Homo sapiens: one gene and its partners. The protein of the gene in region 5 purifies or fractionates together with the protein of the main gene of each other region. This does not show direct contact. Each region holds a gene or a part of one and is shown on either strand. Other genes may lie near its edges. The genes, in order: AMD1, KIF3A, SMARCA5, GSTA1, SSX2, CUL7 and SESTD1.

The links.
Region 1: the proteins of SSX2 (region 5) and AMD1 purify together in Homo sapiens (affinity purification with mass spectrometry, with the first as the bait; one large-scale study listed by BioGRID). This does not show direct contact.
Region 2: the proteins of SSX2 (region 5) and KIF3A purify together in Homo sapiens (affinity purification with mass spectrometry, with the first as the bait; one large-scale study listed by BioGRID). This does not show direct contact.
Region 3: the proteins of SSX2 (region 5) and SMARCA5 purify together in Homo sapiens (affinity purification with mass spectrometry, with the first as the bait; one study listed by BioGRID). This does not show direct contact.
Region 4: the proteins of SSX2 (region 5) and GSTA1 purify together in Homo sapiens (affinity purification with mass spectrometry, with the first as the bait; one large-scale study listed by BioGRID). This does not show direct contact.
Region 6: the proteins of SSX2 (region 5) and CUL7 purify together in Homo sapiens (affinity purification with mass spectrometry, with the first as the bait; one large-scale study listed by BioGRID). This does not show direct contact.
Region 7: the proteins of SSX2 (region 5) and SESTD1 purify together in Homo sapiens (affinity purification with mass spectrometry, with the first as the bait; one large-scale study listed by BioGRID). This does not show direct contact.

The regions. Positions count from the first base shown.
Region 1 is NC_000006.12:110,884,785-110,888,284, forward strand, and holds part of AMD1 (S-adenosylmethionine decarboxylase proenzyme), read left to right. Parts: intron 1-2,720; coding exon 2,721-2,807; intron 2,808-3,500.
Region 2 is NC_000005.10:132,692,547-132,696,046, forward strand, and holds the end of KIF3A (kinesin-like protein KIF3A), read right to left. Parts: 3' UTR 85-3,500; downstream 1-84. UniProt on the Homo sapiens protein: Microtubule-based anterograde translocator for membranous organelles. Plus end-directed microtubule sliding activity in vitro. Plays a role in primary cilia formation. Plays a role in centriole cohesion and subdistal appendage organization and function.
Region 3 is NC_000004.12:143,548,202-143,551,701, reverse strand, and holds part of SMARCA5 (SWI/SNF-related matrix-associated actin-dependent regulator of chromatin subfamily A member 5), read right to left. Parts: intron 1,706-3,500; coding exon 1,598-1,705; intron 1-1,597. UniProt on the Homo sapiens protein: ATPase that possesses intrinsic ATP-dependent nucleosome-remodeling activity.
Region 4 is NC_000006.12:52,790,871-52,793,816, forward strand, and holds the end of GSTA1 (glutathione S-transferase A1), read right to left. Parts: intron 2,118-2,946; coding exon 1,986-2,117; coding exon of another isoform or gene 1,854-1,985; exon of another isoform or gene 1,178-1,853; intron 1,111-1,177; coding exon 988-1,110; 3' UTR 501-987; downstream 1-500. UniProt on the Homo sapiens protein: Glutathione S-transferase that catalyzes the nucleophilic attack of the sulfur atom of glutathione on the electrophilic groups of a wide range of exogenous and endogenous compounds.
Region 5 is NC_000023.11:52,697,179-52,700,678, forward strand, and holds part of SSX2 (protein SSX2), read right to left. Parts: intron 3,401-3,500; coding exon 3,265-3,400; intron 1,754-3,264; coding exon of another isoform or gene 1,608-1,753; intron 911-1,607; coding exon 810-910; 3' UTR 806-809; intron 341-805; 3' UTR 1-340.
Region 6 is NC_000006.12:43,047,352-43,050,851, forward strand, and holds part of CUL7 (cullin-7), read right to left. Parts: intron 3,048-3,500; coding exon 2,909-3,047; intron 2,809-2,908; coding exon 2,612-2,808; coding exon of another isoform or gene 2,585-2,611; intron 2,312-2,584; coding exon 2,056-2,311; intron 1,219-2,055; coding exon 981-1,218; intron 903-980; coding exon 797-902; intron 639-796; exon of another isoform or gene 626-638; coding exon of another isoform or gene 596-625; intron 1-595. UniProt on the Homo sapiens protein: Core component of the 3M and Cul7-RING(FBXW8) complexes, which mediate the ubiquitination and subsequent proteasomal degradation of target proteins. Core component of the 3M complex, a complex required to regulate microtubule dynamics and genome integrity.
Region 7 is NC_000002.12:179,125,333-179,128,832, reverse strand, and holds part of SESTD1 (SEC14 domain and spectrin repeat-containing protein 1), read left to right. Parts: intron 1-3,195; exon of another isoform or gene 3,196-3,297; intron 3,298-3,500. UniProt on the Homo sapiens protein: May act as the primary docking protein directing membrane turnover and assembly of the transient receptor potential channels TRPC4 and TRPC5.

The DNA of each region.
Region 1 (3,500 bases), on a different chromosome or scaffold from region 5:
TGTTTAAAAGTCTTAATAGAAATGGTGAATATAACTGAGAAAGGGAGGGTGGGATTTGTTAGTGCGTCCAGTGGGTAAAAAGGAGTATGTGCAAGAATAAGTTATAGTGGGAAGTCAGTAGGTGATGACTTAAGCAGGTAGCATTATTGATGGACCTGAATTAGATAAGCTCTTTAAAAATCTGAAATTGTAATGTTTCTAATACTTAAATCATAGTGGATATTTTTATTTACCTTCATATTCAGGAATGGGAGTCTTAATAGTAGATAATTTTTGCAAGGATTTTGTAAATTTATCTTAGTCAAGTGAAGCAGGATTTCATTCCCACGAGTAGTTTGTTTATTTTTTTGAGATGGAGATTCACTTTTGTCGCCCAGGCTGGAATGCAGTGGTGCGATCTCGGCTCACTGCAATCTCCATCTCCCGCATTCAGTCTCCTGCCTCAGCCTCCAGAGTAGCTGGGATTATAGACGCCCACCACTACGCCCAGCTAATTTTTTGTGTTTTTAGTAGAGATGGGGTTTCACCATGTTGGCCAGGCTGGTCTCAAACTCCTGACCTCAGGTGATCCATGCGCCTCGGCTGCCCAAAGTGGTGGGATTACAGGCATGAGCCATTGTGCCTGGCCAAGTTTTTGTTGTTTTTGTTTTGTTTGTTTGTTTTTGAGACGGAGTCTCCCTCTGTTGCCCAGGCTGGTATGCAGTGGCAAGATCTCAGCTCACTGCAACCTCCACCTTCAGGGTTCAAGTGATTCTTCTGTCTCAGCCTCCCGAGTAGCTGGGATTACAGGCGTGTGCCACCACACAAGCCAGGGGTAATTTCAAGGGTTGTCACAGTATATATCCCACATATGTATTCTTTCCATATATGAACAAATTGTTAGCACCCTTTTTAAAGAACCTTAAAACTTTTTAGTAGCTCTTTTAAAAAAGTTGCTTAGTCATGTTATAGTCTAATACAGGAACTCAGCTCTGTAATCATTAGCAAGCCTTTCACATTAAAGATTTTTGGATGGGTATTGGTACGCAGATGGGTCAGTAACAGTTTCTTGTAGCAAAATGGTGAGACAGGCACAAAATTCTACCAGGCATGTTTGGTGTTGTGTTTGCTTTTTAATACAAACGAATAAAAACATTTTGCTGTTGGATTTCGCTCAAAAGGTCTTATCTGGTTAACAAAAGATTTGCCGGCTGGGCACGGTGGCTCATGCCTGTAATCCCAGCACTTTGGGAGGCCGAGGCAGGCGGATCACCTGAGGTCAGTAGTATGAGACCAGCCTGGCCAACATGGTGAAACCCTGTCGCCACTAAAAATACAAAAATTAGCCAGGTGTGGTGGCACGTGCCTGTAATCCCAGCTGCTTGGGAGGTGGAGGTTGCAGTGAGCAGAGATCATGCCACTGGACTCCAGCCTGGGTGACAGAGCAAGACTCAGTCTCAAAAAAAAAAAAAAAAAGATTTGCCATTTTTATGAGTGTAGAGCAATGGCCTGTCAGATATCATAAGGCTTAAAAATTTTTCTTCTTTTTTTAAAGACCAGGGTATTACTCTATCGCCCAGCCTGGTCTCAAACTCCTGAGCTTAAGCCATCCCAATCCCAAAGTGCTAGGATTACAGGCGATTCTCCTGCCTCAGCCTCAGCCTCCTGAGTAGCTGAGATTATAAGCACCTGCCACCACGCCCGGCTAATTTTTGTATTTTTAGTAGAAACAGGGTTTCACCATGTTGGTCAGGCTGGTCTCAAACTCCTGACCTCAAGTGATCCACCGCCTTGGCCTCCCAAAGTGCTGGGATTACAGGCGTGAACCACCACGCCTGGCCTAAAAAATATTTCTGGCAAACAGCTGGGCATGGTGGCACATGCCTGTGGTTCTAGCTACCTGAGAGACTAAGGCAAGAGAATTGCTTGAGCCTGGGAGGTCAAGGCCGAAGTGAGCTGTGATTGCACCACTGCACTTCAACCTGGGCGACAGAGTGAGACCCTGTCTCAAAAAATAATATCTGTCATGTTAAGCTGTTCCATGGAATTACATTGTCTTTTTATAATGGGCACACTAATGAAAGAATGAACACTTTCCTAATTCTATTCTCAGGCAAATTAAGACTAGTTTCTTCATGTCCATATGACCTTCATTGCTATGGTTGCTTGTACTGCACATTTCCTGTTAAACGGGCTTTCTCATTGCATTTGGAGAGCTGCGTAGTATTCCCAAAATCTTCTAGGTATGCTTGTAATTGGCAGTCATTCCAGTTTTTTGTGAGTGCTATAAGAGTAACATCACTCACTGTGTCCCGACAGACAGGCTTTTAAATTTCTATGCCAATTAGATTGGTAAAATTATGCTCTTCTTTTTTTTTAAGTGTTTCTTAAGGTTAAAAATCTGCACATTTTATAGACAAAGTATCCCATTGAATTTCTGTAATCATTGATTAGTTAATGGTTTACCTTGGTTTATGGACCTTTGAACATTTTTTTGCCTATTTTTCTTTAAGTAATTTGTAAATACATAGTATAATGACCAATTTTTGTTTCATATATAGCATAATATACCTATCATTTATCTGGGTGTGTCAATATAGATTATTTTGAAAGAAACTAAAAGTTGGTGTACAATATTAATTAAAAATGTGGTCTTCATGAGAAAAAGTGTGAGCTTTGTAATTTTTATGAGTAGGTGGGTACTATTGTGGATTAATCGTAACTTTTTTGTTAAATGATAGATCTGAGTGGGACATACTTTTGAAGGATGTGCAATGTTCAATCATAAGTGTGACAAAAACTGACAAGCAGGAAGCTTATGTACTCAGGTAAGTCCTGTAAAACAAGTGTTAGGTAGCTAATTTCAGTCCTAATCATAATGTGAAACAGTTAAGTTCCTCTCAGTTGTAGTTCTGGGGGTTTTTTTGTTTTGTTTTGTTTTTTTGAGACGGAGTTTCAGTCACCCAGGCTGGAGTGCAATGGCGCCATGTCAGCTCACTGCAACCTCCGCCTCCTTGGTTCAAGCAATTCTCCGGCCTAAGCCTCCTGAGGAGCTGGGATTACAGGCACCTTCCATCATGCCCGGCTAATTTTTGTATTTTTAGTAGAGACGGGGTTTCACCATGTTGGCCAGGCTGGTCTTGAACTCCTGACCTCAGGTGATCCATCCACCTCGGCCTCCCAAAGTGCTGGGATTATACACGTGAGCCACCGCGCCCAGCCTTTTTTTTACATTATTCTTAAAAATATGGTATAAAAGGAAACATTTAGTGTAACGTGGATGTTTCTAGGACATAGGTTTTGAAGCCTCACCGGACAGTTCAAGGTGTTTGCCGTCTTTTCCTCCCAATTGGTAAAGAAGGACCTCTTAATTAGAAGTTCAGGCAAAGGGAAAGTTAGCTTCTCTATACAAATACAGTTGTCTAATTGGTATATAAAAGCTCATCACCTTTTTTGTAGTTGCAGAGTTAATTTATTCCATAAATACTTTTAATGCTTATAGTATATATTGTGATGGGCCT
Region 2 (3,500 bases), on a different chromosome or scaffold from region 5:
AGCACAAAGAACCTGCTCATTAATATCAGGGTGGAAGTAACCACAAAGATAGTTGAGAAAAGCAGCAGACCACTACTACAGGCATTAGGTAAAAGATTTTTATTCTTATTTAACCATGCTGCATGTATACATACAATACCAATATATACAACTTGAACAAATACAATTTATACATAAAATACAATGAAAGCATGGCTTTTGAAACTGATGCAACAAACTGTAATTTGTAATTTTGGCCAGCATACAGTATTATAGTAATGCTACTGAAGTTATTCATTAAATTAGTCAGACTACAGTATAAGTTCAAAGGCACTAGAAACATCTATGTTTTCTTCTAGTATTTTTAAGAACAAAAAATAATTTAAAATAAAACAAATGTATACATTAGGAAATTGGGCAGACATTGGTGTACTTAAATGTAAACGCTACCCATTCCTTAATTCACAGCCCTGTAGGAAAGAAGACTTTCCTTAAGAGTTAAGGGGAAGGATATTAAAAACAGACTAAAAGGAAACAAACAAAACAAAAAACAACCAAAAACCATAATCATAGTTTTAAAAACATGTTACAGAGGAAGTAGCACCACCCCCTCCCCCAATAAAACCTTAAATTTTTGCTGTAAAAAGAAAAAAAAAACAACTCCCTTTCTCCAGAAAGGAAATGAAATGGCTTGTCAAATGGATTCTATTCATGGGGCAAACATGGAGATGCGACCCTTCCCTTGATTACTCATCTCATGCTTTATAAGAATCTAAACACAAATAGGAAACACGATGATAATTTTAACATCCTATTAGTATATGTAATTGTAAGGATTATTAAAGAAGATACTATAAACCAATAATTCTACCAATGCTCCTTTTAATAAATAAATATCACTTTTTAAATTAAAGGGAAAAGAGAATACCCATTCAATAACCTATTTATATATATGTGCCACTCATTTTAAATCTGCATATTTATTTCAAAAAATGAGCAAGTGTGTTCATCTATATCGTCTCACGAAATTAACACTGACCTTACAACATATTTCATTTGTGGACAAAGACACAGTAAATGTGAGGAAACTACAGAATTGCTATGACTGGAGCTAAATGAATAGCTCTGAAGTCAGTGTCCCATATTTGCATATAGATATTCAGACCAGGCTTGAGGCCAGGCGTGGTGGCTCACACCTGTAATCCCAGCACTTTGGGAGGCTGAGGCGGGCGGATCACAAAGTCAGGTGAGACCAGCCTGGCCAACATGGTGAAACCCGGTCTCTACTAAAAAAAAAATACAAAAATTAGCTGGGTGTGGTGGCGCAAACCTGTAATCCCAGCTACTCAAGAGGCTGAGGCAGGAGAATCCCTTGAACCCAGGAGGCAGAGGTTGCAGTGAGCCGAGATCGCGCCACTGCACTCCAGCCTGGGCGACAGAGTAAGACTCCGTCTCAAAAAAAAAAAAAAGATATTCAGGCCAGGCTTATGTATCAAATTTTGGTATTTCTGAGATGGATATTTAATGTCCATCTGGTATAATCAGTTTTAACATAATGCTTTTTTTAAAAAACTGCTATAGTAGGCGGGGTGTGGTGGCTCAGGCCTATAATCATGCCTGTAATCCCAGCACTTCGGGAGCCTGAGGCGGGTGGATCACTTAAGCTCTAGGAGTTCAAGACAGGCCCGGGCAACATGGCAAAACCCCATCTCTACAAAAAAATACAAAAATTAGCCGAGCATGATGGCATACAGCTGTAGTTCCAGCAACTCAGGAGGCTGAAGAGACAGAGGTTACAGTGAGCCGAGATTGTCCCACTGCACTCCAGCCTAGGTAATAGAGCCAGACTCCGTCTCCAAACAAAAAACAAACACCCCTGCTATAGTAGCCTGCTTTTAGAACTTCTCAATTGACTTTTTATAGATCGGCTTTTTATTTTGACTTTTTATAGATTTATTTTTATTATCATGGTAGGGTGGGATAGAAAAAATATCTAACATACTGGCTTAAATTTCCATGTTTTAAAGCTTGATTTAAAAGTTACTCCTTTCCTATTAACTGAATTGTTAAAGGTTAGAAACATGAACTTTTAAAAAGAAGCGTTTTTTTTAAACTGGTAAAATTAAGATTTCTTTAGAGTAATTACTAACAGAGTTAAATGTGTATCATCAAAAACATTTTATAATTACCAAAATATTCTGATCACACAAAGCTTTTACAAGACACATATTTACCTCAACTCTTCACAGTATCTAAACAATGCCCCACAGAGTTAAGTAATAAATTTCTAGCTATCTTACATACCACAAACAAATGCAGCCAGTGAAATGCAATTCTAATCACCTAGAAAATGTTCACCACACACAGGACATTCAGTATTCCAATTACAGAATGGACTTTAAATTTATGGGTACATTTTTATCGCCACCTCAAGAGTACTCCACCTTCACTCACCCCTACTCTATACACAGCTTTGTCATTTAAACTAGGATTTAACAAAACTTATTAAAATAATATTAATTTAATAAATACTAACTTATAAAGTCTCAAAATATTTTCAACCAATGTGTTTCAGGGCTGATTACATAATTTTGAAAACCACAAAACATATATTAAGTGGTTTAGGAGTAGCATAACTTTATTTTTATTTTATTTTTATTTTTTGAGGTGGAGTGTCACCCTGTCACCCAGGCTGGAGTGCAGTGATGCCATCTCAGCTCACTGCAACCTCCGCCTCCCAGGTTCAAGTGATTCTCCTGCCTCAGCCTCCCAAGTAGCTGGGATTACAGGTGTGCGCCACCACACCCAGCTAATTATTGTATTTGTACTGGAGACAGGGTTTCACCATGTTAGCCAGGCTGGTCTCGAACTCCTGACATCAAGTGATCCACGTGCCTCGGCCTCCCAAAGTGCTGGGATTACAGGCGTGAGCCACCATGCCCGGCCAGGAGTAGCATAACTTTAAAAAAATACAATAAAAGTTTCATAAGCAGCTAACAACAGAAAAAAATAATTATCTCTATTACAACTTACTTTACTATGAAATCAACATAGTTTTTATTTGTAGAGGAATATGGTCTAACTGGATTACCCAATAGAAGAAATTCAGAAAATAATATTTTATTTTTAAAATAGAAAAACAAAATAAAAAAGTGTTTTAAAGGCAAAGTATTTAAAAGATATTTTTCTTGCTTAGCTGTATTTTCTGGAAAATGGAGACTCTTCTTAACTGGGAGACATAAAGTAATTCCCACCAAAATTTAGAACTCAAAGAAAAGCATCCATAACACTTCAGAGTGAATTTTTAAAAATATACACGCAGGCAAAGATAACTGAGCAGTATTTAGCTTCTTAATTTTCCGCAACAGTAGATCCTTTATATTTACGTACAATTCAATGTTTCAAGAGAACATGAAACCAGAACTTAAGGTGTATTTGATTTGAACTCAAACTGGCAAAAAAAAGTTAGGAAAGGTTCAGATGAAACATTTTCAACTTGTTAAAAAACATGTATACTCGCA
Region 3 (3,500 bases), on a different chromosome or scaffold from region 5:
GGAACTCATTTTTGACAAAGCTACCAAGAACATACACTGGAGAAAGGACAGTCTCTTCAATAAATGGTAATGGGAAAATTGGATATCCATACACAGAAGAATGAAACTTGACCTGTATCCCTAACTATATAAAAAAATCAAATCAAAATGTATTAAAGACTTTAAGTCCTCAAACTGTGAAACTACAAGAAAACATTGGGAAAACTCTCCAGAACACTGGACTGGGCAAAGATTTCTTGAATAATACCCCACAGGCAACCAAAGCAAAAATGGACAAATGGGATCACATTAAGTTAAAAAGCTTCTGCACAGCAGAGGAAACAGCAAAGTGAAGAGACATCCCACAGAATGGAAGAAAATATTTGCAAACTACCCATTTGTCAAAGGATTAATAAATAACCAGAATATGTAAGAGCTCAAACAACTCTACTGAAAAAAATCCTAACAGTCCGATTTAAAAATAGGCAAAAGATCTGAACAGATGATTCTCAAAGGAAGACATACAAATGGCAAACAAGCATATTAAAAGCTGTTCAGTATCACTGATCATCAGAGAAATGCAATCAAAACTACAATGAGATAACATCTCATCCCAGATAAAATGGCTTTTATCCAAAAGTCAGGCAATAACAAATCCTGACAAGAATGTGGAGAAAAGGAAACCCTCATACACTTTTGGTGGGAACGCAAATTAGTACAATCACTGTGGAAGCAGTTTGAAGGTTCCTCAAAAAACTACAGATAAGAGTTACCCTACTCCTAGGTTTACACCCAAAAGAAAGTCAGTATATCAAAGAGATATGTGCACTCCCATGTTTACTGCAGCACTATTCACAGTAGCCATGATTTGGAAGCAACCTAAGTGTCCATCAACAGATAAATGGATAAAGAAAACATGGTATGTATACACAATAGAATACTATTCAACCATAAGCAATGAGACCCTGTAATTTGCAGCAACATGGATGGAACTGGAGTTTATTAAGTGAAATAAGCCAGACACAGAAAGACAAACTTGGCATGTTCTCACTTATTTGTGGGAGCTAAAAACTACAATTAAACTCATGGAGACAGAGAGAAGGATGGATACCAGAGGCTGAGAAAGGCAGTGGGGGTGGGGGAAAGTGGGGCTGGCTAATGGATACAAATAAATACAAAGAGAGACTAAGACCCAGTATTTGATAGCCCAACACAGTGACTACCGCAATAAATAATTTAATTATACATTTTAAAATAACTAAGAGTTAAACTGTTTGTAACAGGGATAAATGCTGGAGGTGATAAATACCCCATTTACCCTGATGTCCTTATTACTTATTGCATGCCTGTATCAAAGTATCTCATGTAACCTATAAATACATACTTACTCATAACAACTAAAAATTAAAAATTATACCACTACCTAAATTTGAAAGTGGAAGAATCTCAAATTATGAGCTTGGGTTCTCCCTTAAGGAAAAAAAAAAAAAAAAAAAAGTAAAGGCAATGGAGGGGTGCACAACAGGGACTAACACATCAATGACAGCCAAGCAGTGTTAAATACTTAGAAAGGGGAAATTTACATAATCCACATATTTACATATTCATGAATACTTACTGAAGGCTTTGGTCCTCGTTTCTTTTTCTCTGCCTTCTCCTTTTCTTCTAGTTCCATGTTTTCTCTTTCAATCAAAGTAATTAAGGTATTACATCTCCTCTGGAGCTCCTAAATTATAAACAAACATGGTACACGCACTTTCCATCCACAAGTTTCATGATTTCAATTTTAAAACAAGGTATGTTTTAATAGGATAATATATAAAACCACTAATACACCCCTGATTTAAAAAAAAAACAACTGATTTTCATATACAATTCATGCTATGAAGATTAAAGGCAAGATATTTGTAAATAATGTTTTTACTCCAATCTTTAAAGCCAAACTACTGTGTATTCTTCAAAAATTCTTCCTTCACTTAGGAATTAAAGCAATAAAAATGAACATATGCAATACTGCTACTTAGTGTGTATGTCTGAGAACTACTGTGCTACTTATATCCAAAACTTAAAAAGATTAATAGTGCACATATGTGAGGGTCAAAAACAACAAGAACTTTAACAGGTGTGTATAATCTTTCCCTTCAAAGTATCACTAGAATTATGGTAGTCAATCAATCACATGGCACCTTTCCCAATTTTGGAAAACCAGCCATGGAAGTCTACGATGAGTTCTACCTCATCTCTCTCTGGCAAACTGGACATACAGCCTCCAGAAAAGATTTAAAGTATAACATAGAAGTAGCAGTTAACCCTGAAAGAAACAGAAGTCCATCTGCACGGACGGCTGCTGGGTAGCAGCCCCCTTTCTTATAGAGCAAAATTATTTTTTTCTTATAGTAAGTGATACTACTACACACACAACTACAGTAAAATAATTTTAAAATACTACTGTATAGAATACACCACACAAGACTTAGAAATAGTATATAGAGATAGAAGAATACATTATCATTTTTTGTGCATCTTAACATGGAACATGTTAAGAAGTAACACAGTTTTAAATTACGGTACTGTACTAGTTAAATTAACATGGCACTGTCTTGTTACAATCACTATAAAATTATTCTTTATTAACTCTATAAATTGTTCCCACTTAAGAAGAAATAAGCTTTCAGCAACTGGATCTTTTCTCTAATTATATATTTATACAGTGTTTTATCTTCAAAGTATCTTCATGTATTTAAGTTTAGTACATTTCCCAAACTTGGGTATCACAAACAGTGATGTCTAGTGAAAAAAAATTTTCAGTGGTCAAACATGAAAATACTGCTTACTATCCACTGTCTTACAAAGTGACATTTTACTTTAAATATACAGAGAAATCTTACTATAAACAAACACAAAGATGTTTAAACTTTGCTTATCCCAGAATATCCCAAACTTAAGACTAAAGAACTTATTAGCATTATCCTCATCTGGCAGAAAACAAGTTGAAGCTCAAAGTTCAATGGTGGTGAAATAAGGAAGAAAAGGAGCAATCCATCAAAGTTAAACTTTTCTGAATTCAAATTTTAGGTTATTAGAAATGGGGCTATTTGGTCAGAAACTGTTAGTCAGATATTGGGAATAAAAACAAAACCTAGCACTAAATCAGTGCAAAAGTAGTGTTTCACTATAATAAGCCATCTTAAAATAATCCAGACTCTGGATGATTTATATTAAATAAATCAGAATGCTGATTCTGATGTGCAGATGCTTGAATGCAAGGACCATTTTTCTTTATAGAAATATGTTCATTTGAAAAACCAAAAAGTCGTAACACTCAGAAGTTGAAACTGATACTTCCTCCCACTTAGAACTTGAAAAGCTAGTCTTATCATATAGTGATATTTAAAGACGTAAGATACTAAAGGATAGGACCAATAAACTTGTAAGCTATCCCTGGTATTAGGTTTTATGATACTAACAATATTGTAACAAAAGTCTACTTCATAGATTTTTTTAAAGTCACCTTAAAGAAT
Region 4 (2,946 bases), on a different chromosome or scaffold from region 5:
GGTTGTAAGTGGAGAAGAGACTAGAGCAAAGTGAAGCTGCAGGTAGGAAGCCTGTGTGTTTGTCTGCTCCCTCAACCACCTCTGCCAACTGTGGGGAAGCTCCCTCTAAGAGGAGGAGAGTGCAAATTGCAGAAGCCCAGGTGTCCTGGGAGAGATTAGCACTATGGGACCAGTATGGGGGTGGAGCTAGAAAGCACTCCTAATCTAAGCATTCTGGCACAGTGACACACCAGGGAAAAATGATTTTGCATATAGTTATTTGTATTTCACATATACCATCTGTATCGTGGCAGCCAGGCCTGAGTGGCACTGAAGGAACTGAGAGAAGGCTTATGCCTGGGACCCCACAGAGCCTTAAGGAGCAGAGTGAGGATGAGCCAGGAGCACACACACTGTAAGGGACAATAGGGTGGCCTGAGAGCAGAGGGTGGGTCTGTTTGCTCTTCAGTATTTCCTCACCTCCTAGAAAACTGAGGAATCCACAGCAGACAGAATCATTGTTTTGCAAATGCATAAGAAAGAACGCTTTTATCAGAAATAAAATGACTGTCCAGGAAAAGAAGAAAATGTCTTTATGCCATTATCCAGGATGGTAACTCTTCTCCTGTGCATACCTGAAAATGTCAGAAGTGCATTTCTACATTGACATTTTAATAGATTGTATGACAAATTGTATGTTACGGGACAATTCTTGGAAAAGTCAAACAAACCACATAATCTATAGTTTCCTTTTTTACTGAATTTTTAATTCCAGGAAAATGGTTGGCTAGGAGAAGATTGGAAATCTGAATTCACATCAGATCCTAATGAAAACAAATCAATTTTAACTAAGTCAGCGAATAGGAGTTGTATTATTTAATTAGCATATAATTTGAAAGAGTTCATTAGCTTCACAACAGGCACAATCAACACTTAGGTAAAGTACTTTATTGTTGCAAAACTTTAGAACATTGGTATTGCAAGTTCTTGGCCTCCATGACTGCGTTATTAAAACCTGAAAATCTTCCTTGCTTCTTCTAAAGATTTCTCATCCATGGGAGGCTTCCTTGGGCTGCCAGGCTGTAGAAACTTCTTCACTGTGGGCAGGTTGCTGATTCTGGTTTTCAGGGCCTGTAATTCATAAAGCACAGCCTCAGAGTGAAGCCAAGGGCTGACACCACCATTAACATGACCCAGGGAATCTGAGCCCCTCCTGCAAAGACCAAGTGAGTCTGCTCCATCAGCACAAGCATGGAGGCAGAAACAGACACCCAGTGAGAAATGAAGATAAGGGGAAGGACATGTAGCTCACTTTATTTTCCCCAAAGATGTCTTGAAGTTTTAATCAGTTCAGTCATCTCTATCTTTCTCCTTACACACTAATCCTATAGATTAGTGACTCTTGTATAAGACAAGAAAAAATAATGTGCCTGTGAGATATCAACACAGATGAGTCTCTAAGCAGAAGTGAAAACATGGGGAAATTATTTGGGAAGGGAATAGTTATAGAAAATATTAAAGACAAACCATGGGACCACCTTTTCTCAGTGAGAGATACAGTGTGGGGGGCCAGTGTTCTGGAGAGCTGTGCAGAGAGGAACACAATGTCAGACAGCAGGAGCCGGAGCCCAGGGAGGAAACCAGATGGAAAGGGCTCTGCTCAGACCGGCTCATTGTGGGCACATATGGGATAAAGGACATCACAGAGAACTCAGGAACAGAAACCACATTGAAATAGAGGGATGGGGAGAGATGCTGGGCCCTGGGTTCTTTCCATAATAAAGGGCAAAATACTCTTTGTGGGGTAGCATGCAGCACAGATTTCCTTTCCATAACAAAAGTGTTTTCATTCCTCAAAATTGGAGCCTGGAAGCTCATTTTGGAGACCTTGGGGCACTGAAGGCCTGGAGAAGACTGGGGCAAAACTTGGTCAGTCGCAGGGCCCAGATACAAGATCCCAAGATGGGAGATGTGGGGCTGCCTCTCTGGGCTGTGAAATGGGTCACCTTCAGCAGAGGGAAGCTGGAGATAAGACTGGAGTCAAGCTCCTCGACGTAGTAGAGAAGTTCCACCAGATGAATGTCAGCCCGGCTCAGCTTGTTGCCAACAAGGTAGTCTTGTCCATGGCTCTTTAAGACCTGGAGAATGGGAGGAATCAGATCAGGAACACATGCACACCCAGGCTAGGACCCCTGCTTCTTTCGGAGCCTCTCCACCCTGACTTTCCCCACCTCTGTTGCCTTACTGCATGGGTGCAGAAATCCAGAGCTTTCTCCACATTATCTGAATGAATGAGAGAGTAAGAACTGTAACTCTACTCACTCCTCAGTTGTAGCTCAGGCTCCCATTTTCTCTTCTCATTCTACATCACTGTGGCATCTACACCACCCACGCAGCTTGCTTCTTCCACATGGGCCAGGGGCTTAGCACCTGCCTCCATGTGTTCTGTCTGCCCCAGGCCCTACAGCGTGGAGCCCTCACATTCAGGATGTGGCTCTACATTCTGCTCTCTCCCTCTCCAATCTCCCTTGGGCAGTGACTCCACCTTCATGACAACACTCTTCCCCAGGAGGAGACTATTTCAGAGTCCTCATTTCTCTTTGTCTGCTCTCCTCATTCCCTGCTCTATCTCCCTGGGATCTGTAGGAAACCTGGGTGAACCTGAATTCATCTTTCTTACAGCATTGACTCTCACTCCCAACTGGCACTATGTTATAATCTGCAAGCTGAAGCGTTTACGGGTGAACTGCACTGATGTCTGCAACTTACTCTAAAATCCATTTTAAAAAATCTTCCTCTGCATCCCACAATCACTCTCCTTTTAAAAAATACCCATCCCTGAAACGCTACAGTATTCTCTGGTTGGGCAATTGGTCTCCTATCTTCCTGCATATGGTGCCAGAATATTTTCTGATGGATCGCTTTCATCATGCCCCTGTTCAGTCAAAGTCCATGGGGTTCCATAGA
Region 5 (3,500 bases):
AGAGAGGAGGGTAATGCTGTTCCATGCAGAGGTAACCGACAATACTTGTTTTCTAAGGTAGGTGCATGGATACACAAACCAAAATATGCATTAAGTATGTCTTGCTCATCAATGAAAATGTTAGTATCTAACAGAATGACACAGTGTAAGAAAATACAACGTAAACGCTAACATCGAACTCTTGGCACACTAAGAAAAATGACGCTCAACTTTTCACTGTTGTGAACACTTGCTTTCACTTGCTATGCACCTGATGACGAGGGGTCCGCAGCCATGCCCATGTTCGTGAAAGGTCACCACGTTCTGCTTCTCATCATGGGCATGTGTCGTATCCCTGAGGCTGAGGCAAGAAGAGAGAAGGAAATAAGTGGCAGTGAGTTCCCACCACGTGGCAACGCAATCTCAACTCCTCCTGACCTGCAGACCCTGCACACTCCGATTCTGCCCTATCTCAGGACCTGCACACGCCTTCCACGGTTCCTCGAAGTGAACCATCTGTTCATGCCACAGTGACTTCCTCGCCTGGGTTATCAATTCCTAGGCTAGAGAAAGGTGTGGCCCGCATATCAGGGCTTACTTGGGGTTTGGGACCCCACAGCATCCTGGGTAGGGAGGATCCCCGGATATATACAGGGCAGGGAGTAGAAAGAGCATGGGAAATCTCTCATCGTTCAGCCTCAATGCTGTACAGTAGAAAATTGTAAGAAGGGAATGATTTGGGGAGCAAGTGACAGATGGGATACCAGTATCATAACAGAATAGCACGTCTGCAGGGATGTGGGGGATGAGTGGAAGGTTCTCTTACGGAGTTACTCGTCATCTTCCTCAGGGTCGCTGATCTCTTCATAAATCACCAGCTGTTTTCTCTCACGCAGTCTGTGGGTCCAGGCATGTTCCCCCCTTTTGGGTCCTGTGATGGAGAATAGTTGGAAAGTGAGGGTTGGGTAGGTTGGAGAGTGTTAGGCTCTGTTTACTCAAAAAAAGGAGATGCCTGCTTCCTCCCAAGTGCCCATGGGCCTTCTTCATCCAGTTTTTCACATTCTCTGGCTTAGAGAGGCTGAGACCTTAGATCCACACCAACATAGGCCAAATGCCAATTAAAGTTTTAGCTTCTGGCTCCTTCCCTTCTCAGGCTTAGATTCCCAACCTCTTCACTTACGGGAACATTCCCCCATACCTCCTTTCATCCAGCACGTATTTGTTAAGGCCACACAGGCGTACCTTGTTTTGTTGCACCTCATGTTCATACTGCTTCGCAGATGCTGCAATTTTTTTTTTTAATTCTCACCAATTTTACACTTTTCCATTATTATTATATCTGCTATAGTGATCTGTGATCGGTGAGCTTTGATATTATTACTGCAATTGATTTTATTGTTTTTTAGTGTTTTAAAATAATTTTTGTTCTTTATTTTGTGGGTACGCAGCAGGTGTATATTCTTATGGGGTACATGAGATGCTTTGATACAGGCATGCAATGGGTAATAATCACATCATGGAAAATAGGGTATCCATCCTCAAGCATTTATCCTTGTGTTACAAACAATCCATTTACACTTTTAGTTTTTTTTTTAATGTACAATTAAGTTATTATTGACTATAATCACCCTGTTGTGTGTAATTGTTTTGGGGGTACCATGAACTGCACCCATAGAAGTTGACAAACTGAATCGACCAATGTTGTGTGTGTTCTGACTGCTCCACCGATGAGCTGTTCCGCGTCTCTCTTCCTTTTCTTGGGCCTCCCTATTTCCTGAGACACAGCAATACTGAAATGAGGATTATTAACAACCTTACAATGGCCGCTAAGTGTTCAAATGAAAGGAAGAGTCGCATGTCTCTCACTCTAAATCACAAGCTAGAAATGGCTAAGCTTAGTGAGGAAGCATGCTGAAAGCCAAGACAGGCTGAAAGCTAGGCCTATTGCGCCAAACAGCCAAGCTGTGAATGCAAAGGAAAAGTTCTTGAAGGAAATAATAATACTAATACTCCAGTGAACACACGAATAAGAAAGCAAAACTGCCTTACTGCTCAAATAGAGGAAGTCTGAGTGGTCAGGATAGAAGACGAAACCAGTCACAACATTCCCTTAAGCCAAAGTCTAATTCAGAGCAAGACCAGAACTCTCTTCAAGTCCATGAATGCTGAGAGAGGTGAAGAAGCTGCAGGAGAAACATGTGAAGCTAGCAGAGGTTGGTTCATGAGGTTTAAGGAATGAAGCCGTTTCCATAACATAAAAGTGCAAGGTGAAGCAGCAAACCCTGATGGAGAAGCTGCAGCAAGTTATCCAGAAGATCTAGCTAAGATCACTGTTGAAGGTGGCTACATGAAACAACAGATTTTCAATGTAGATAAAATAGCCTTCTATTGGAAGGAGATGCCTTCTAGGACTTTCATAGCTAGAGAGGATTGATTTCAACTTTGAAAGAAGTTCTACTGTGGGTAAAATGCTATCCAATAGCATCACATACTACAGAGAAATCCTTCATGAAACGGAGAGCTAATCGATGTGGCAAATTTCACTGTTGTGTTCTTTTAAGAAACTGCCACAGCCACTCCACCCTTCAGCAACCACCACCTTGATCAGCCAGCAGCCATCAACACCGAGGCAAGACCCTCCACCAGCAAAAAGAGTGTGACTCACTGAAGGCTCAGAAGATTGTTAGCATTTTTAACAAAGAATTATTTTTAAATTAAGGTATATACATTTTTAGACACAACGCTATCGCACACTTAGTAGACTACACTATAGTATAAACATAATGTTTTTATGCGCTGCCAAACCAAAAAACAACGTGTGTGACTCACTTTATTGCAGTGGTCTGGAACTGAACCTGCAGTATCTCTGAAGTACACCTGTATTGGGTAACAGGCATGGCATTGAGCTGAGTCTTAATCAGGTAATGATCCCAGGTAATCACAGATAGAATTGCTTGAGCACCTTTCATGTCATCAGGCCTTCTAGATTAAATTTAATGTCTCCAAACAATTTATGAACTATGATTCCTTATTTCCATCTTACGGACTAGGAATCTGGAGCTGAGAAAATCTGAAAGACTTGCCCCAAGTCACATGGTTTTTTCTATGGGTGACAAATCAAGTCTATCTCTGGAAGTCATGTCTAACATCTCATCTGGAGCTGGGCGAGCTCCTCAGCCCAGTCTGGACCCAGGGTTATCTGGGATCCATGCCACACACCCAGTCCATATACCTGAACATCGCCAGGGAAGCCAGAGGGATTGTTCCTGAATTGCTTCCTCTTACCAGATCTCTCGTGAATCTTCTCAGAGGTAGTTGGTTTTCCCGGGGGGCACAGCTCTTTCCCATCATTTTGTGGGCCAGATGCTTCTGGCACTTCCTCCGAATCATTTCCTTCCTCTGCTGGCTTCTTGGGCATGATCTTTATAATGTGAAGATCACAGATAAATAGTATCAGTGACATATCTATAGTGCTTTTGAGCTTACAAAGGGTCTTCACATGCATTAGCTTATTCAATGTT
Region 6 (3,500 bases), on a different chromosome or scaffold from region 5:
GCTGATTATGTTGGCAAAAACGGCAGAGAGCATCCCTGGGTTCTTTCATCCAGGCCCTACTGTCCCAAAAACCAGTTGTAGGGCTGTGTTTTGAGATGTTCAGGCACAGACACCTGGATGGCTGGGAAGGGGCTGACAGGGACTGGGTTTGTGTGTGTATTATACCCAATGAGCCTGCCTTAGAAAGTAAATTCTAGGTAACAGCCAAAAATATAGCCACACTGCAAATACCTACTGTCACCATGACCCTAGTTCTCTGAGCCCTTCTGAAGCCTTCTGTGCCCAGGACTTCTCTGTAGCTCTTGCAGGGGACTCTGGTATGTGATGGGCGCTCTGCCTCCTTCATCCCCCTTTCTCCCACAGGCCCAGCCAAAAATGGAGCTATTGAAGCTCTTAATGTTTTATGTAATAATATCTCCATATCCTTTTGTGTAAAAAAGAGAGTGGCAAGATCACACATTTGGGTTTGCTTATATTTGCATAAGGGAACACGGGAAAGATACATAAATTAATACAAGTAGTTACCAGTAAGGGGTGTGTGGGGGACCCTGGGGGAACAGAGATTTGGGTGAGAGCAAGAATTCTCAGTGTATACCTTGTTAGAGCGTTTTGATTTGTGAACCATGTGAATGTATTACCTATTTAAAAAAAATAAAATTCAATTTTAAAAGCAAAACTCAAACCAAGAGCTCAAAGGCTCTATCACGCCCTCCAGAGCCTTGCCCAGCAGGTGTGCCTTGCCAGTGGCTGCCTTTATCCTCTCCCCCAGCCTCTCCCCAGAGCAGGGCAGGGGTACCTCTCGATCAGTGTTTGGGGACCGCAGGCAGGCCATGCAGGCATCCACGGCCTCGTGCCAGGGGAGCAGCAGTGCCTCGGGGAAGTCCACCAGCTGCTTCAGGATTCTGGGGGCAGAGAAATGTGTAGCCAGCCTCATGGACCCCCTTTGCCCTCAGAGATCCCACCTGTCACCATGCTCTCACCTCAGCACAGTCAGGTGCAGGGTCCTGTTAGTCTCCGGAGTGTCCAGGCTCTGCATCAGTGCCAGGAAGGGCTGCGGCTGCCGCTGCAGCTGCAGCAGGAGTGGCTTGACCTTGTTCTCCTGGGTCCCCTCTGAGCTGAGGGCTTGCTCTAGATCCAGGAGGATTTTCCCAGCTGGACCATAACCCTCCACCAGACGCTGCAGGGGAGTGTTGGGACTCTGAGATGGGGGTTCTTTTGCTACAGGAAGGGGACAGTCACAGGAGTTGGCCATTGTTAGTAATGTGAAGGCTCAGAAATAGATTCATAACTCTCAATCTTTTTCTCTAATTTCTCCTAAAAAATGTTTTAAATTTTTTAATCCCCCTAAAAGTTAGGTTTGGGGATCTAATCTCTGAATGTCATTGTAAGACAGCTTCATGACAAATTTTATATTCTTTTTTTTTTTTTTTCTTTGAGACGGAGTCTCGCTCTGTCACCCAGGCTGGAGTGCAGTGGCATGATCTCGGCTCACTGCAACCTCCGCCTCCTGGGTTCACGCCATTCTCCTGCCTCAGCCTCCAGTAGCTGGGACTACAGGTGCCCACCACCACGCCCGGCTAATTTTTTTTTTTTTGTAGTTTTAGTAGAGACGGGGTTTCACCATGTTAGGCAGGATGATCTCGATCTCCTGACCTCATGATCCACCTGCCTTGGCCTTCCAAAGTGCTGGGATTACAGGCGTGAGCCACCATGCCCGGCCTTTATATTCTTAAAATAGCAAAGTAGCTTCATCTGAAAACAGGAGAGCACTTCCCTTTATTTCAAAGCATGGAATATGTTTCTGTACAAGAGAAAAAGCTAAATGTGGGGGCTTTTTTAAGTCTTCAAAATTCTCTTGCAATTTTCTAACTTTACATCCTCCTTCATTCTTTGAGGGAACACAATGCCTGCTTCTCCGTTTGTTGCTTCTCTCTAAGTTGCAGCTTCTAAGGTGGCATCACTTCCAGAAAGGATTGCATAAAAATCAGCACAGACATCTCTCCTGTGCTACTGCCCTGAAGGTGTGTCAGCTCAGCTGCTGTGTCTGGCACCCACCTTCCACTTTGGCTGCATCTTCTGAGTCCTTAGCCTGGGCCTGCGCGTCTAGCAGGAGGACATCTTCTTGGGCTTCTAGAAGGGATGGGTAGGCTTGGTTCCCTGCTAGGGCTTCAGGCCCATACTTCTTGTAGACATGGCAGTTGATCAGGTCCCTGAGGGCACTGTCATTGAGTCGCTGTGGCAGAGTCAGCAGCAAGTCCTGGGCCAATTCTATGGGCACGGCCAGTTCAGCTAGGATCTCATCATCCAGAATCTGCCATCAAGGAGAAGCTCTCACTGCAGACAGCCCTGCCGACCCAGAGGCCCCAGGGAGCACTTGGTAGGGGTGGGGGTCTCTCTGCACACATACCCTCCATCCTGATCCTCTCACAGCTGGCAGCTGGCTCCTCCCAAACAGCTCACCCTCCCACCTCTGAAAATTCCAGACCCCTCCTCTGCAGCCCCTTCCACTCTCTGACCTCCACTTTTCATCCTGAGCCTTCCAAATGCTCTATACAGTCCAGCCCTTGCAATAGAGCCCTCCAACCTCTGAGTGTCTCCAGGCTGGCTCTACCTCCCCATCTAGGTTCTCCTGGAGGATCTGGAGAACCTCCTGATGGTCAGGTCCATCCAGCTTCTTGATGAAGAAGAGGAGTTCCCACCACTCAGCCAGGGTCAGGTGTTCACACTCCTCAGTGTCCTCATCCTCAGGCAGCACATAAGGCACAGCATAGAGTTCTGTCATGGGCCTCCAGCGCCAGGCAGGCAGGGCTGTGAAAATGGGCCAAGGGGCACAAGGATGTCACTAGCAACTCAGCAGGACCACCATTCCTCTGCTCAGAGCTGACCCTTGCTTCCTCCCTGAGCTCACCTCTACCCAGGACTCTACTGGCCACTGCCCCTTGGTACTCATCAGCCTCAACCATGTCCTCAATGTCTTCCTCAAAGCCCAAGATCTCCAGCATGTGCCAGTGCACCCAATAGGTGCGGCCTGTTGACTCCCAAAATACCTGGAGCATAGGGAAAGAAAGAGGGAAGGGGAAGGGAGGACTCACAAATGACTGGCTGTGGCCCAGTACTGAGGACTATAGCCCTCAGGGTGACCACCTGGCCAGGTTTTAGAAAAACCTCCACATAACAAAACAGCAGCATATGGAGAATACACACACACACACACACACACACACACACACACACACACACACACACACACACACAGGATGCCTTCTCCTTTGGGGGATGGGCCTGTCTCTCCTCTCACCCTGTCTTTCATGGCTTATGCCCCCACACTTCCTTCTGGCCTCCACCACTCCATCTCCCTGACCCTGACCTTTGGAGGAGTCTGGCTATATCAGTTTCTTCCCAGGTGTGAGTCTTCTTGACTTCACAGCCTCCTAAACCCAGATTTTCCCAGCTCTCAGAATGGCCCCCCTCTCAACTACTGACTCTTTTCACCATTCCAA
Region 7 (3,500 bases), on a different chromosome or scaffold from region 5:
GAGACAGACCGGAGAATGGCTGTAAGTGAACAAAATACACCTAAGGTTCTAGGCAGTCTACATTCTACTGGGTTTTTTTTTTTTTCTTTTCTTTTTTTTTTTTTTGAGACAGTGTCTAGCTCTCTCGCCAGCCTGGAGTGCAGTGGTGCTATCTCAGCTCACTGCAACCTCTGCCTCCCAGGTTCAAGCGATTCTCCTGCCTCAGCCTCCAGAGTAGCTGGGATTACAGGCATGCGCCACCACACCCAGCTAATTTTTGTATTTTTAGTAGAGACGGGGCTTCACCCTGTTGGCCAGGATAGTCTCCATCTCCTGACCTCGTGATCTGCCCATCTTGACCTCCCAAAGTGCTGGGATTACAGGCATGAGCCACTGTGCCCGGCCGTACATACCCGTTTTTTAGGAAGAAACATTTGGATGACTTTTTTTAAATACATGCAAATGTATTAGCCAGATTTTTTTGCTCTCCACATCCCAGAGAGACTATTTCTTTATGGCAACCTCAATCGGTAATATCAATGTCTCTAATTTCAGGTGTTAATTTCTTGAGACATACTAGTCCTCACAATGTATTTACATCCCTGGTCAGGTTGCTGGAGCCTATATTTTACAAATTCAAACCAGGAAATAATTAGCTCCACAGTGGTGATTCCTAAACCTTAACAGGCATAAGAGTCATCAGAGATGCTTGTTGAAATATATATTCCAGGGCCAACTCCAGATACTGATTTAGTAAGTCAGGAGTGAAGCTTAGACATTTTTAATAAACACCCCAAGTGGTCTAATGCTGGTAGCTCTGAAAAGTGCTATTCTAGGACTCTAATCCTTCACTGCTTTTCTCAGAATCGTTGCTATTACGTCTTCAAAGAGTTAAGCCTATTTATTTAGAGCATTTAATGATATGTAAGTACTATGAATAAGGTATTGAAATCCTTTTATATTTTAGAGCATGACAGTGATAATTTTCTGAGGTAATATTTTCTACTTTAAAATAGTCTCTGTTAACCATTATAAACTATGTAGTTTAAAAATATTCTATGCTTGTTATTGAGTTAAATCCAAACAATAACTGATAAACAAGGTAAGACAGATATTATCATCACCATTGGATATAGGAGGATTTCTCATCCTCAGCAGACTCTTGAGACTTTGGGCCAGATAAATGTCTGTCGTAAGGGCTGTCCTGCACATGGTAGGGTATTTTGCAGCATCACTGGCTTCTACTTACTGCATGCAGTGGCATCCCCATTCCTCAGTTGTGATAACCCAAAATGTTTCCAGACACTGCCACATGTTCCCTGAGTGACAAAATCACCCTCTGTTACCTACTTAATGTAATGTCAGTAAATCTACAGTGATTAATGTTTTATACCTTCAATCAATGAATGTTAATTGAGCACATACTATGTGTCATGTGTTGTTCTAGGCTTTTGCCATATAATACTGTCTTACTATATGGAATTTACATTCAAGTTGGGGAGCGGAAAGCAATATAGGTATAGATTTTAGGAAAGGCCTCTCTGAGGAGATGACATTTAATCAGAAACCTTGAAATGATGTCGAGAAGTAATCCAAACAAAGGGCAATTCAGATAGAGGACACAGCAGTAGAAACACCCCAGCACAGGAAGATGATTGAGGAACAGCAAGAATGTTGGTGTGGCTAGAGTACAGGGAGCAAAGGAGAGTCACAGAAAATAAAGTTTTAGAGGAAGTCAGGAGCCAAAACATGTAATGTCTTTTAGCCCATGAAAAGAAACTTGAAATTTATTTTAAATGTTATGTGAAGTTATTTGAAACTTTTGGACAGATAATTAATTTATGTTTTAAGCAAATCACCGGCTATTGTGTGGAAAATAGGGAACAGAGACTAGCAATGAAAATGGAAGGCGGGGGGCTGATAGATGGAGGCATTAGAAGTAATGAGAATTGATAGAAGTTGATGAGGTTGAGCCAGCAAGACTTGCTGATGAAAGAATCAGGCTTTTGGCCTTAGCAGCTACTAAGGCAGGGAGGACTGCGAGAGGAACAGGTTGGGAGGATAGTGAATCAGTGTCTTTGGTGGCAGGTTAGATTTTAGATATCTAGTAGTCATCCAGATGAAGGTGGCTAGTGGGCAGTTGGGTATCAGTATCTGGGGTTCATGGGAGGGGTCAGTGTTGATGATTAATTTGGTAATTCTTAGCCTATAGATGTATTTAGAGCCTATATTAACTTGGTAGTTCTTAGCCTATAGATATATTTAAAGCCTATATTAATTTGGTAATTCTTAGCCTATAGATCTATTTAAAGGCATGGGACTAGGTGAAGTCATCCAAACCCAGTGAGAAGAAAAGAGAGCCTCTGGAAAACTGAGCCTTGGGTCAACCTAAACTTTAAGTGCAAAAAGAGGGAGGAGAGCCAGCAAAGAAGGCTAAAAGGAGCTGTTGTGTCTCAGAAAACAAGAGAAAAGGCCATTTGAAGGAGGAGGAAGTGCTTACTTGTGCCAAATGCAGCTGTTTGTTGAGAGGTTCAATAAAATAAAGACTGAGAATTGACCATTGGATTTGTGGCAAGATGGAATTTTTTGGTGAATTTGACAATTGGTTTCAGAAGGGTGGGAAAACAAAATCCTGATTGGAATGGATTAAAAAAAGAATGAAAAATGAGAAAAGAGTAAATACAGAGAACTCCTTTAAGAAAAAAATTTTTTTTAACTGAGGTTTAATTTCAGCGTAGTAAAATGCACAAATCTTAAATGTGTATTTTATTGTTTAATAAATTACAGCTTATTTATATGCTGGTGGAAATAATCCAGTTGAGACAGAAGAACTGATGGGAGACAGAGAAGATAACTGTGAGAGCAAAGCTTTGTGTAGGCAACAGAGATAGGCTGTAATGCACAAGTGGAGTGGTTGGCCTTAGAAGAAGAGACAGGCGGCTGATTATTACAGCTCTGAGGGCAGAGCATAGGGCTGTAGAAGAACGGAGGGTTGGGGATTTGTTGGTGGGAAGATGAAAGAGTTTTCCGATTACTTCCCAGTGAATTAAGATCTTTGGCTGAGAATGAAGAAGTGAAAAGGGAATTGGAGACTGATAGTGAAAAAAACATAAATGATCATGAGAATGAGAAAGTGAATTTACTAGAGAAACATAAAAGGATTGCCAAAGACTCATTTGAGATTATTTAGTCATAACTTTAAAAAGAGATCTGTCAATCCTTTTGTAGTTTATAAGCATGATGATGGGTGCTCACACTCATCTGAGATGTGTCTCCCTCTAAGCCTTGTAACAACATCAGCACGTTACCCTTCTGATGTGAGGGAAAAGAGAGAGAGCGCTATCCACCTAGTTGTTTTTAGTCTACCCATGTTCGGCTACTCTGGTACAGGCACACATTAGGCAGAGAAAACAGATCTCAGGTTTCAACAGGTCATTCTGATGGAAGGAAAGAAAGCCAGGCAGGGGCATGGGTTATATGCTGGGAGGTGGTTATAGCCTTTGATCAAGGATGGAAGTGAG